Linked DNA regions of Homo sapiens: all the other regions are reported to be linked to region 1. Evidence: microRNA targets listed by miRTarBase, many of them from high-throughput screens and not tested one by one. Region 1 holds a microRNA gene; each other region holds the end of a gene's coding sequence.
What was found. Region 1 holds the annotated microRNA hsa-miR-548bb-3p (CAAAAACCAUAGUUACUUUUGC, at 2,004-2,025, opposite strand). A microRNA usually pairs through its seed, bases 2 to 8, with sites in the 3' UTR of a target mRNA and lowers its output. Matches are read on the target gene's strand: a 7mer-m8 pairs with bases 2 to 8, a 7mer-A1 pairs with bases 2 to 7 and ends in A, and an 8mer does both.

Region 1 (4,069 bases):
TCTGCATTGCAAAGCTGATGGCAAGAACTACATTTCCCAGAATACTCTTCCCTGGATGGTTCGAGTGAAGTTTACCAATAAGAATAGAGTGAGATGTGGAAGAAAAAGAGATAAAGAAACTGTTCTTTGGAAGTCAGACAAATGTGCACAAATGAAGTCTTCCTCATTGCTGTACATTGAGAGATGTCCCTGCTTTCCTTATCGAAACTCTGATCTGTCTATGAGTTATTAACACCCTTGTCAGTAATATCACTTGTCATTAGGTCACAATTCTTGGGACTACCATTGTCTAGGTTCTTCTATTCCACATGCTTTGTTTCTGTGCATGTTGAGTCCAACATGTGTGTATATTTTAGGTAGTGTCACCTGTTTGGATATCCACAAGACCTATTTACACAACACCTGTTACAAAAACTCACCCCAGATGTTTTCTTGTTTGTTCAGTTTAATTTATTATACAAATCTTCACATTTGAAAATATAAGCAAAAGTGATTCTAAGCCACTACAGGAAATTCACAAAAGCAACACCTGGTGTCAACATATTTCATCACATTTTAATGATTATGATGTGCACAGGTGTGCTGAAAGTTTCTCCTCCATACTCTTTGATTCTTTTTTAAAATTTTTTTAATTATACAAGTAATACACTTCTAGAACTAATAAGCAATCATAGCAAGCTTGTGGGACAAAAGTTAATATACAAAGTCAATTGTCTTCTTATTGCTAGCAATGAACAATTGGGACTTGAAATTAAAAACACAATACCATTTACATTAATGCCAAAAATTTAAATACTTAGGTATAAATCAAACGTGAAAGATCTATATAAGGAAAACTATAAAACTTTGCTGAAAGAAATACAAAAGATCTAAGAAAAAGGAAAGCTATCCACATACGCAGACAGGAAATCTCAATATTGTCAAGATATCAGTTCTTCTCAACTTGACCTATACATTCAATGCAACCTCAGTTTTAAAAATCCCAAGCCAAAGTAAAAGCCATCTACGGCACACAGCATTCCGAAAGGTTTGGGCTACCTGACTATTATGGCACCAAGAAATCTCTGGTATATGAGAACTTTCACTTTAATTCAAAATGTTGGATGACCTGATTTTCAGCAGAAATGCTCTTCAAATCAGTTTCACTTAGGCTTTTTGGTGTGAAGTGAAACGATGCAGACAATGAGCTTTGGAGAATGAGGAACCACTGAATAACTTACTATGGAAGTGGATACTGACATGGCAAAGAAACGACAGCCTGGAGTTTTTAACAGAATGTTCCCAATGAGCAGGACCTGAAGATGTTTCTTCGTTCCAAAGGAGCTAGCAAAGAAGTGATTGTTAGCATCATATCAAAATAACTAAAAGCTATAACACACACTCTTGAACGTCTTTCAAAACAATGGGATCTATGAAGGATTATGATATCAGATCTTGATACTGTAAATATTTTGGGCCATTCTCCTGAATGCTTTCTTTTGTCCCATGAAAACCTAAACTTAGGGATTCTATGAGTTCCTCTACTCAGCTGGATTTACCTGTAAATGCCTTTGTTGATTGTTGACCAATGTCCCTTGTACCTTTTCCAATAGTCTCGATCTGAATAAACAGATGGTTAAAGTTTTGCAGGAAGTATATTTTTCATTGGGTCACAATGATCCCACAGATTTTGTAAGAAAGATGATTTTTTAAAACCCTTTCATCTTAATTCAGGGTACCAAGCAGGTAAAAACTAACATTGAATTTTTACAGGCAAGTTTCAATTTGAACAGTAGGGAATTGCTATTTTAATATGTGGTCCAGGAACCAAAATCCTAGACCTTTCCAATGACTATGCCAAAACAAACTACACAAATATCAAACAGAAGCTGTTTTCTCTCTGAGGTACTGAAGAAGAGGTACAAAAGCTTGCCTTAAGTTATCCAGATGTGGGGAAAAAAAGTTATCCAGATGTGATCTTTTGGCAGAGAAAAAGTTTAGTGAGAAGAATATTTTAGCTTGGTGCAAAAGTAACTATGGTTTTTGGGCAAAAACCATAGTTACTTTTGCACCAATCTAATGGATTGTCTCATAGAATAATAAATTAGCCTTCTGTGAAAGTAATTTGTGATAACTGAAAAATCCTTGGGTTCTGGATTCAAGCATAAGTACTTTATAAAGTCAAATCAAAGAATTAGTAAATGCTGGCTGTAACTTGAGGACATCAAGCATCACTCTTCTACTCTGGAGTTAAAAAAAAAAGATACAAAGTAAATTTAAAAAGTTAAGCAGAACACTGGGGAATTTTTGAAAGCCAGTCATATAATGTAGTGGTATCTTTTCATTTTGAATTTGGGCCTTTCAAAAAGGAGGGGTATGATTTCTTAACCACAGATATATATATGTAATAATTCTTTGGCTATTTTGTTTTACAGGTTTATGGAAACTCATGGTTGATATGCTCAGGTGCAGTCCTCCTAGCTACCTATTTTCCAGTTTGAATTACTCCAACATACCATTATTTGATACAGGCTGTGCTGCTGTAGAGATGGTAGTGCCATGGTGATTTGCTACACAGATCATCCCATCACCTAGGTATTAAGCCCAGCATCCATTAGTTACTCTTCCTTATGCTCTCCCTCCCAGCAGCACCCCTCCAACAGGCCCCAGTGTGTGTTGTTCCCTCCATGTGTTGACGTGTGCTCATTATTCAGCTCCCTGTTGTAAGTGAGAACATGTGGTGCTTGGTTTTCCGTTCCTGCGTTAATTTGCTGAGGGCAAAACCTGATTACTTTGAAAACAAGTTCTACTGTGGCAGGCAGAATCATGGCCACACCTAAAGATGTCAACGTTTTAATTTGAAGAAGCTGCGAATATGTTATGCAAAAAGATTTTGCAAATGTGATTAAGTTGAAATTTGATTAAGTTAAGGGCCTTGAGATGACCTTGAATCATCTGAGTGGACCTAATATAATGCTAAGGGTCCTTAAAAGTGGAAGAAGGAGGCAAAAGAGGTCAGAATGATGCTGTATAAGACAGACTTGACCACTTTGAAGGAGGTGAAAAGGAGGCTTTGAAGAAGGAAGGGACCATAAGCCAAAGAATGCAGGGGGCCACAAAGAAAACTGAAAAGCCAATGAAACAGAATCTCCCCTAAAGGCCCCAAAAAGGAATGCAGTACGGCTGGTACCTTTTCAGCCCAGTGGGCCCAGTATCATACTTCTGTCCTACAGAACCACAGGATGATAAATTTGTGTTGTTTGAAGCCACTGAGTCTGATAATTTGTTACAGCAGCAAAGATTAACATAGCAACTAAGTAGATGATTTGTTGCATTATAGGTGGTCACAAAATACAATCCTTTAGTATCATGTATTTTTTCCTCTTACAAGAGTAATTACATTTAAAAAAGCTATCTACTGTTCTAGAATCACTGTCGTTGTTTACAATAAAGTCCTTTAAATGTGCGCATAAAAAACTAAATGTGAATAAAATGTAAATAAAGGAATATTTTTGCCTAATAAATACAAAGAAAATGAAAATCCCAGCAACCTATTTTTTGTGGATATTAACAAACTGATTCTAAAGTGTACATGGAAAAGCAAAAGATTCAGAATATGCAAGACAATATTAAATGAGAAGAACAAAGTAGGAGCACTGACACTATCCGACTTCAAGAGTTAGAACAAAGCTATAGTAATTGAAACAGTGTGGTATTGGCAAAAGCCACCAAATACATCAGTGAAACAGAAGAGAAAGCCCACATAGTCTTTTCCACAAATGGATCTAGAACAAATGGATACCCACATGCAAAAAAAAAAAAAAAAAAAAAAAAAAAGAATCTAGACAAAGACCTCACACTATTCACAAAAATTGACTCAAAATGAATCACAGACCTAAATGTAAAATGTAAAACCATAGAACTCCTAGAAAATAATGTACAAGAAAGTTCAGCTGATCTTGAGCATGAAAGTGACTTTTTATATATAATACCAAAGGTGCAATCCATGAAAGAAATCATTGATAAGCTAGACTTCATTAAAATTGAAAACGTCTCCTTGATATAAGACACTGTCAACTGAGAAAGACAA
Region 2 (4,069 bases), not on the chromosome of region 1:
ACCAAAAATACTATCTTGTAAGGTACAAAGAAAGCTTGATATTAAGTATGAAAACATAAGCATAACATTTGTAACTAATCACACCCATGAAAGACGACTAGATGACACCTGAAACATTTTTCAAAATACTGTAACACAGATGAGTAATATTAGTATAAATTTTTTATGTACATTAAGATCTGTTTCAGTTTGCTGGTGTGACCAAACCTTAGAAGGTAATCCCAAGGGATAAAGCAGAACATAAGAGCAGATATTTAGATATTAGTACAGGCTCAATTTGATGCAATCATAAACCTTCAAGATTTCTAGTCACTGAAACCCCATTGTAGGTAGTGTTCTGGAGTCTGCTATAAGTAAATCTTTAATGACTAGATGTTTTCCTTACCATCTACACTGAATGGAAATACCATGAATATAGACACATTTTAAGTAGAAGACTGACGTTCTAAATCATGCTGTTTGATTTTATAAAAAAATCATAATAGACCCTCTCACCTTTAAAAGTTGTAGAGGAGCTTTATAATAAATTCTTAAATATACTAATTTCTGTGATGTCTAGCAATTGAATAATTTAAACTTGAAAGAACTAAAATACTAATAACCATCTGCTTTATATTACACAAGGAAATATACACGTATGTACATAAAAAGTGAACTCCCTTCACAAATAAGTTCACAAAGGACTATGTGTAATGTGACTGGACATTCAACAACTAGACTAGCCGGTTGAAATCACATTTTCAGTCCTCTGTAATTGTGAAATTTTTTCTAATGCCTTGCAAAAACTACAGATAACTGATTAAGTTCATGTAGGTTCCTTATTGAAGATAAATTGTGGTATAAATTCTATACTCAAGTTACTGAACATGAGAGTTAGGTTTTTCCAAGTGATCTAACTTTTCCCTCTATAATCTATAAACCCCAAAATAACAATTTCTGTCAGAGAGAATCTGTAACAGAAGTGTTCTTGTGTGCTGAACAAAAAACTTCTAAATTGTTTACAATTCACTTACTATTTAACCCAAACAAGTTTAACAAGAATAAGTTTATACTGTTAGCCCCCAATGGTCATATATGATTAATAAACATTTTTTGTAAACTCAACTATATTCACACATCAAGAGTTGAGCCAGTGAGCTCAATCTTTAAAAAACTACACTTGTCTAAAGAAAGTCTTTTAGTGCTCACTTCGGCAGCACATATACTAAAATTAGAACAATACAGGGAAAATTAGCATGGCCCCTGTGCAAGGATGACACAAATTCATGAAGCGTTTCCATGTTTAAAATAATTTGAAAAGAAAGTATTTTAAACAAATCCAAGTAAAAATAAAATATCTACAAGTGTTTTCAAATCTAAGAAATGAAACATGTAAAGATTAAGAATTTACTGAATCTTAACAGAGTATTTCCCTTTGTGATATTGACAGAAGTTTCTCATAAAATGTATAAAACAGCATAAATGTTTGGTAGATTCACTAATAGTAGTCATACTTTTTTTTTTTTACTTAGTATTAGCATTTGTTGAAAAAATAAATGGCCAAAGTGCTTTAATTTTCATTTAGAATGAAATAATCTGGCTTACCTTTGACTAATTAAAGAAAATATAGGGTAATACAATTGTTCAAAATCTAACACAAATAGGAGCGTTTACTATTTTTGTCTGCTTTAAGATTTTAACTTGATCGAAAATACCAACATCCCCAAACAAAATTTACTGACCTGACATCAGCTTACTATAGACTGAATACACTTTCAACATCAGTCCTTAGCTACCTCAAATAATGACACAAAGTCTTAGTTTCTTTTGCATAAGGATCAAGATCAAGCTATTTTTAAAACAATTTAAATGGTCTCAAAACATTCTCCAACTTAAGTGCAAATTTGAGTACACATAATATTTCCAAAGAGTAGAACTGTTTTTAGATTATCTTTGGATTCTAATAACCATTTTGTCCATTTTTAAATAAATTACAAAAAATAACAGTTCAGTGTTTTTTTTCTTCAAATTTTCCTAGGCCTTTGTTATGGCAACACAATATATACTTAACAGGCCAGCTTGCAACCAGTACTCAGTACAAATCAAAGGATGATTGAAGCCTCCAATATGATTGAAGCCCTTGTAACCACAGCTCCCCCAAAGGCAGTTTACCCCTGCCATATAGGTCTAACACTGGGGGCAGTTTTACTCCTGCCATATAGGTCTAACATTGTGGGGTGCACCTCCAAACCTACCCAAAAATGGACATCAAGGGCATAAGCCGGCAGGCAGGAAGATCTGTTGATTGGAGAATCACTCCATGAGTTACAGAAGTAGATGAAAGCTGTGGGGGAATATAAATAAGACTGTAGAATTAGGGAGGTGGCAAGATTTAAGGAGATGCCTTAGGAAGGAGCCTCATACTTCTGAAATATAGATGTTAACTGGGTTGGGATAAAAGTAAAATCTCCAGCTTAATTTATCTATCTGATCAGGACCAGAAGTCCAAATTAAACCATGTCTCCAAAGTATAGTTGTGATTTTTACCTGATTAAAGGTGAAAGTCTAAACTTCTAGGCGTCTGCACATATGCAGACAAAAAAAATTACAGCAAACTAATACTTCAAATGAAATTTTAAATAATTAGTCCCCACATGCCACAGTTAAATCCCTGACAGTACTGTTAACATCAGATGATAGAATGAATCAGAAACAGATTTTATGTGTACCTTTCCATAGATAGTGAAGTCAAAGGAAAAAACTGCATCTATATCTAGGATTAAGAGGCCAAAACCAAAATATCTTCATGAACCTTTGACCGTAAGTTTCTGTTTTTGTGCTCTCATTTACTTGAAGTTATATTTTTTCTAATTTATTGACACTTATTTTTGTTTAGGCATGCCTACATTTTAAAAAATTGGTGATTAGTTTTGAAATTTAAAACTTCTAGAACCCTCACCAAGTTTTACTATTAAAACCCTTAGTATAAAAGATTTCTGTGATCCTTATAAGTAATGGAAATCCTACTACTTTCACAGCTTTTTAATTATATTTTTGAAATAATGGTCAGATGTACCACCTGATAAAGAAAATATAATATGATCTGGTTTCCCAAAATTGAAACATGGTTAATAAAAATAAAAAATTGCATTTACCAAAAATAGCCTGGAAAATTAAAAACAATGGTGAATTCTACGTTCTAAAGGGAAGCAAAAAACTGCATAGTAAGTAAGTTCAAATTGAAATTTTGGAAATTTTTGTCCTGTGCCCCATGCTGTTTATTAATTACCATATTTTAAAAACAACAACTATGTTACAAAGAAGAGGATTTATCATCCACTTTCTTCTTCCTTCAGGTCAGCTTAGCTTTCTTCTTAGCAGGTCCTTTATGCCCTTTGGCCTTTCTTCTTAAATTCCGCCTGTCTACCACAGGCACTTCCACTTCTATTTCCTCTGAGCTGCTATCCACAGCTTTTTCTGCCGATTGTGTAAACTGATCCAGTTGCTCGGAAGATGCTTCAGACTGCTCCTCTGACTGATTCTTCTGTCCTGCATTCTGTGAAAATGGCACGTCTTCAAGTTCAACCTCTATCAAAGAACTCTGAGGAAGAGCAGTAGATGTTTCCTGGGGCTCAGATACCCCCTCCTCACCCTGGTCTTCCAATGAGGAAGTAGTATTAGGAGACAAATTCTCAGAGACCGGTTCTTCGGAAAATTCAGCTATCACAGAGTTTGGAAAACCACCATCAGATCGTTCTTCATTTGACATAGTAGCAACATTGTCTGAACTCCCAAGATGTGCTTTCTTTCTTGGAAGTAGGGACAATTTCTCTTCCATGTGCCCCTTTTCATCAGATGTGCCTTCATCCATCAACATTTCTGAGTCAGGTATACGTGGGGTCTGAAAATTAAAAACCTGGTCAACAAATAAACTTGTACTACAGTTCTAAAAATAAATTCTCAGGCTCTAATATGCAGTGACACTGAACTAGAATTTAATTCGGTATTCATTACTCAAAATCGAGTATTTTTTTGAATTTCTGTTCTGCTATATGTGTATATATTCTGAATACAACTCAATTTCTTCAAA
Region 3 (4,069 bases), not on the chromosome of region 1:
CGAGCTGCCCGAGGGCACCTCCTTGACTGTGGACAACAAGCGCTTCTTCTTCGATGTGGGCTCCAACAAGTACGGCGTGTTTATGCGAGTGAGCGAGGTGAAGCCCACCTATCGCAACTCCATCACCGTGCCCTACAAGGTGTGGGCCAAGTTCGGACACACCTTCTGCAAGTACTCGGAGGAGATGAAGAAGATTCAAGAGAAGCAGAGGGAGAAGCGGGCTGCCTGTGAGCAGCTTCACCAGCAGCAACAGCAGCAGCAGGAGGAGACCGCCGCTGCCACCCTGCTACTGCAGGGTGAGGAAGAAGGGGAAGAAGATTGATCAAACTGAATGAAACCCCCACACACACACACATGCATACACACACACACACAGCCACACACACAGAAAATATACTGTAAAGAAAGAGAGAAAATAAAAAGTTAAAAAGTTAAAAAAAAAAAAAAACCTGTTAACTCCAAGGGAGCACCACCCACAGAACCTCCACCAACTGACAGTTTCTCTTCTTGACTTGCCACCCATCGCTGGATGTTGTCCACTTTATCCACCATATAAAACAGTAAGCAGCTGCTAAAAACAAAAAAAATACAAAAAGTAATAACATTATATGAACTGTGTTTCCTACTTGATTAAAAAATATAAAGAACTGAGTGTTTATTTCCCTAATTAACCAAGAACTTTTGTACACGTTTAAGCTATTATTATTAAAAAGTGTTTGCAAAATGGTCAAGATTATAATATTGCTGAATTATATAAAAGTCCTTTTCATGTTGAGCTAACATTTGACTTTAGCACAAAAAAGAGATATTTTAGAACACGTAAAATAATATTTTTAGTTTTTCTCATTTTGTTACCAAATTTCAAACCTTACATGGAGGTTATTATAGTATATTTGACACCCTATATACCTGTGATTAGAGATGTGTATATATATGAGGGCTAGGCATGCTGTGTGTCTGAGCTTTGTCTAAATGTTATGCAGAAGTTTGTAGAGTTAAAGGTACGTAGGTTTAATTCATGCAAGGTAAACAATAAGTGCTCTCTTTTATACAATATGCATTGCATCTGGACCTTAAACTTATAAAAATGGTCAGTGAAACTTCTGTGAACATGAAGAAATTATTAAAAAAGGCATTTAAATGAAATTTGCTAAGTTGTGATTTTTATGGTTGGAACCAAAGTTATTCAAATAGTAAAAGGAAAAAGAAAGAAAAAGGAGATCTCCCATAATATTTTTCTGCATCTGTTTGCTTTGACTGAGTAGGCGTTTTGTCATTATTGTGTATATGAGATGTACTTGTATCGTTCATAATATATTTTTTTTATTATGTGTAGAAAGATTTTAAAAAACTAACGTGCAGCAATTTCCAGTGAACCTGTACTTGGACATCAGGTAGTGAGTCTATTTGTGGTCACTAGCACTGTCTCCTAAACTTGTAAGAGGTCTGAAGCTATTCTTTGATTTTTGCTAGTGCTATTAACTTATGTAGACCTGTTAAAAAGCAGAGCAACACAATTATAGTTATCCTACTGAGCCATGGATTCTGAGTTTTGTTTTAAAAGTGAAAGCCAAGTTGGTGTATGTAAAGGATTTCCATGTAGCTGTGGTGCTAGTTATTACTGGCTACATTATATGCTAAGTGTATTTGTGTTCCCCAAGTGTACAAGCCTTCTATCAAAAGTATGTTCTATAACTCATATATTCAAGGTGTAGGGTATGAAAATGCAAAGTTTAGGAGAGCACTTTACCAAGCTGGTGTCCTCCAAACTGAAATTGTTTGTAACGATAGTCTTTTACAGGTTTTCCTTTAAAGATGTTTGTGTGCTTTTAATTGACAACTAACTTCTTGCTGCTGTATAGTAAAATATTAATATATTTTTATCATTAAACTGCTGCATGACTATCATCTTTGAGTGAAGAGAAAATGTTATAAAAAAGATGCCTTAAACAGTACATTTTGGTTTGGAATTCTGTAGAAAGTATTTTGGTAAAAAAAAAAAAAAAAAAAAAGGGTCTTGTCTGACAGAGAGTTCTGGGGATGGAATTGTTTCTTGGCAAATCCAGCCATATAGATCTAACTGCTGTATGTATAAGACACCACCTGTAGGAGCGGGAAGGTATCAGTGCTTCTTATATTGTAAAGCATTGGCCTAGGAAGGCAAACAGTTGTCTTTTTGAAGGATTTTTTTCTGCTGGTCCTTTGGGTTTTGATTTGATATTTTTATGCTCCCTGGTTGAGTGTGTTGTCTTCGTTTTTGAGATCTACTGTATGTGTTGAATAACAAGCTATTTTCATTGTACTGTGCATTTTCCCATTAAATTGTTTGCTTTTAATATTCAATGTTAAATATGAGGTGACCGTACAGTAGTTAGGAGTTTCTTTACTTACAAAATCACTGGAAATGATTAAATTGCTTTTCCCCCTCCCCAGAGGTGCATTTTTCTTATTTCCATATAGTAAAGTTGAGCTTTTACAGTGCATAATGTGACATTTGGAATGCTTATCAACTGCATGTAAACATTAATAACCTGCACTTTTTTGTCTTAAGGTTTGTTGAGCTGTTTTGTTCACTGTACTTTAACTGTGATATGGAAAAGACTGCATTCTCTGTGCTGTTACTAATTAGGAAAGAGAATTGCTTTGATTTTGTCTCTTGTTTACTATAGCTTCTTAAAGTTAAGCCTTGTACTACAGGTTGTTGGAGTACTCCTAGATCACTGTTTCATAGTAGCCAGCAATAAGTAGTGCAAGTCAACAAAAACACAGCAAACTTAGGCAAAGTGTCCTTTCTTTGAGATGCGAGTTCTTTCATGAGGTTTTCTTTAGGGCCAGAGTTACCTAAAGTGAAGCCTTTCTTATCTATAGACTTCAGATTCTGCTTGGAATCCCACCGGCTCAAGAAGCACATGTATTGTGCAATTAATTGTCTTTACACTAAAACAGTTTAATACAATCTAACTACGATTTTGAAACCAGTGTCTGATTTATGGTCAGTGGGTTTAAAAAGAAATCCACATGCAGATCTTTTAAGACTTAAAAAGTGATCATAGAAAAGACTAAGTGACTGTAAAGATGCTCTTTTTTTAAGCATCTCACTTTACCTCCCCAAGCACCCTCCCAAACCTTGTCTTCCCTCTTCTGTTGCATCCTTTCCCTACCCTTCCCTCCCAGGTGCTCGGTACTTTACCTAGTTTCTATATATCAGTGTTTTATGTTGGAATTTTTCCTTGTTTTTATTTTACTAGTTGGTAAACCCTGTTTATGCTGAAACAAATAAGGAAATGGTATATTTGACCATATGTGTTATTCATAGAAGACAGTATGATCAAATGTGCCAAAAACAAGCAAACAAAACTTAATTCCTGAGAAGTATGCCTTATTTTTATTGATCTGCTTTGTCTTACAATTAAGGTCCAAGAGCTTGGTTAAACTGTATTATTTGCCTAAGTATAAAAGAAAACTTGAACTGCATTGCAATATTGACGTTCTTTAAAATGAGAGACACTGTCAAGTAATTTAATCCAGAGATCAGCCACCAGATTTGAAATGCTTATGTATGTGTGTGTGTTTGGAGTTGTTTTTTTCTTTTAAATCACCAAATTTTTTTTAAGCTACTTTTTATTTGTGCCTCCTATTTATCATGCTGATGTTAGAAGCAGCAGTCATCCAGCCACAGAGGGAGCTAAAGTTAACTAACCAGAACTGTAGAAATCATTATACATGCCTTTGACAACAAAGGAAGTTCATAAGAAAAGCCATGTCGGCTTTTCCTCTACTAGATACAGATTGGAGGTAGATGAATATTTGCCAAATGGAAAAAAAGACAATGCTAGTCAGAAAAGACAAACTGTTTTCCAGCTTCTCAAAAAGCCATGGAGAGTAGAAACCAAAACCAACAGGGAAATAAAAAACCTTGAAAGTCTCACTTTCTAGTTGTCCCATGCAGGGGTTGAAATTTGATTCCAAGCGGAAAGTATATTATGTTTTTTCAGGCCTTCACATCTAGAGAGATGGATAACTTCCAATTTGATTTTTCAGGTAATAGAGAAAGCTGCTAGTAATTTTA

Region 2: miRTarBase lists FAM169A as a target of hsa-miR-548bb-3p. Seed matches in the 3' UTR shown: 7mer-A1 at 3,276-3,282 and 7mer-A1 at 3,154-3,160.
Region 3: the mRNA of PURA is a reported target of hsa-miR-548bb-3p. Seed matches in the 3' UTR shown: 7mer-A1 at 3,233-3,239.

Annotation. Positions count from the first base shown.
Region 1 is chr3:60,615,812-60,619,880 of GRCh38, forward strand. MIR548BB (microRNA 548bb) reads right to left here and starts at 2,059; the gene lies at 1,994-2,059. All of the region lies in intron 4 of FHIT (fragile histidine triad diadenosine triphosphatase), which reads right to left. It also overlaps the pseudogene MTERF1P1.
Region 2 is chr5:74,778,129-74,782,197 of GRCh38, forward strand. It overlaps FAM169A (family with sequence similarity 169 member A), which reads right to left. Exons shown (of 13, transcript NM_001376049.1): 13 at 1-3,880. The coding sequence ends at 3,332. NSA2 (NSA2 ribosome biogenesis factor) reads left to right here. Exons shown (of 6, transcript NM_014886.6): 6 at 1-1,985. It also overlaps the pseudogene RNU6-1330P. Among named protein-coding and RNA genes, the nearest start is that of NSA2, 13 kb to the left of the region's middle.
Region 3 is chr5:140,114,829-140,118,897 of GRCh38, forward strand. It overlaps PURA (purine rich element binding protein A), which reads left to right. Exons shown (of 1, transcript NM_005859.5): 1 at 1-4,069. The coding sequence ends at 322. Among named protein-coding and RNA genes, the nearest start is that of PURA, 2.8 kb to the left of the region's middle. RefSeq lists enhancers at 1-448, 1-328.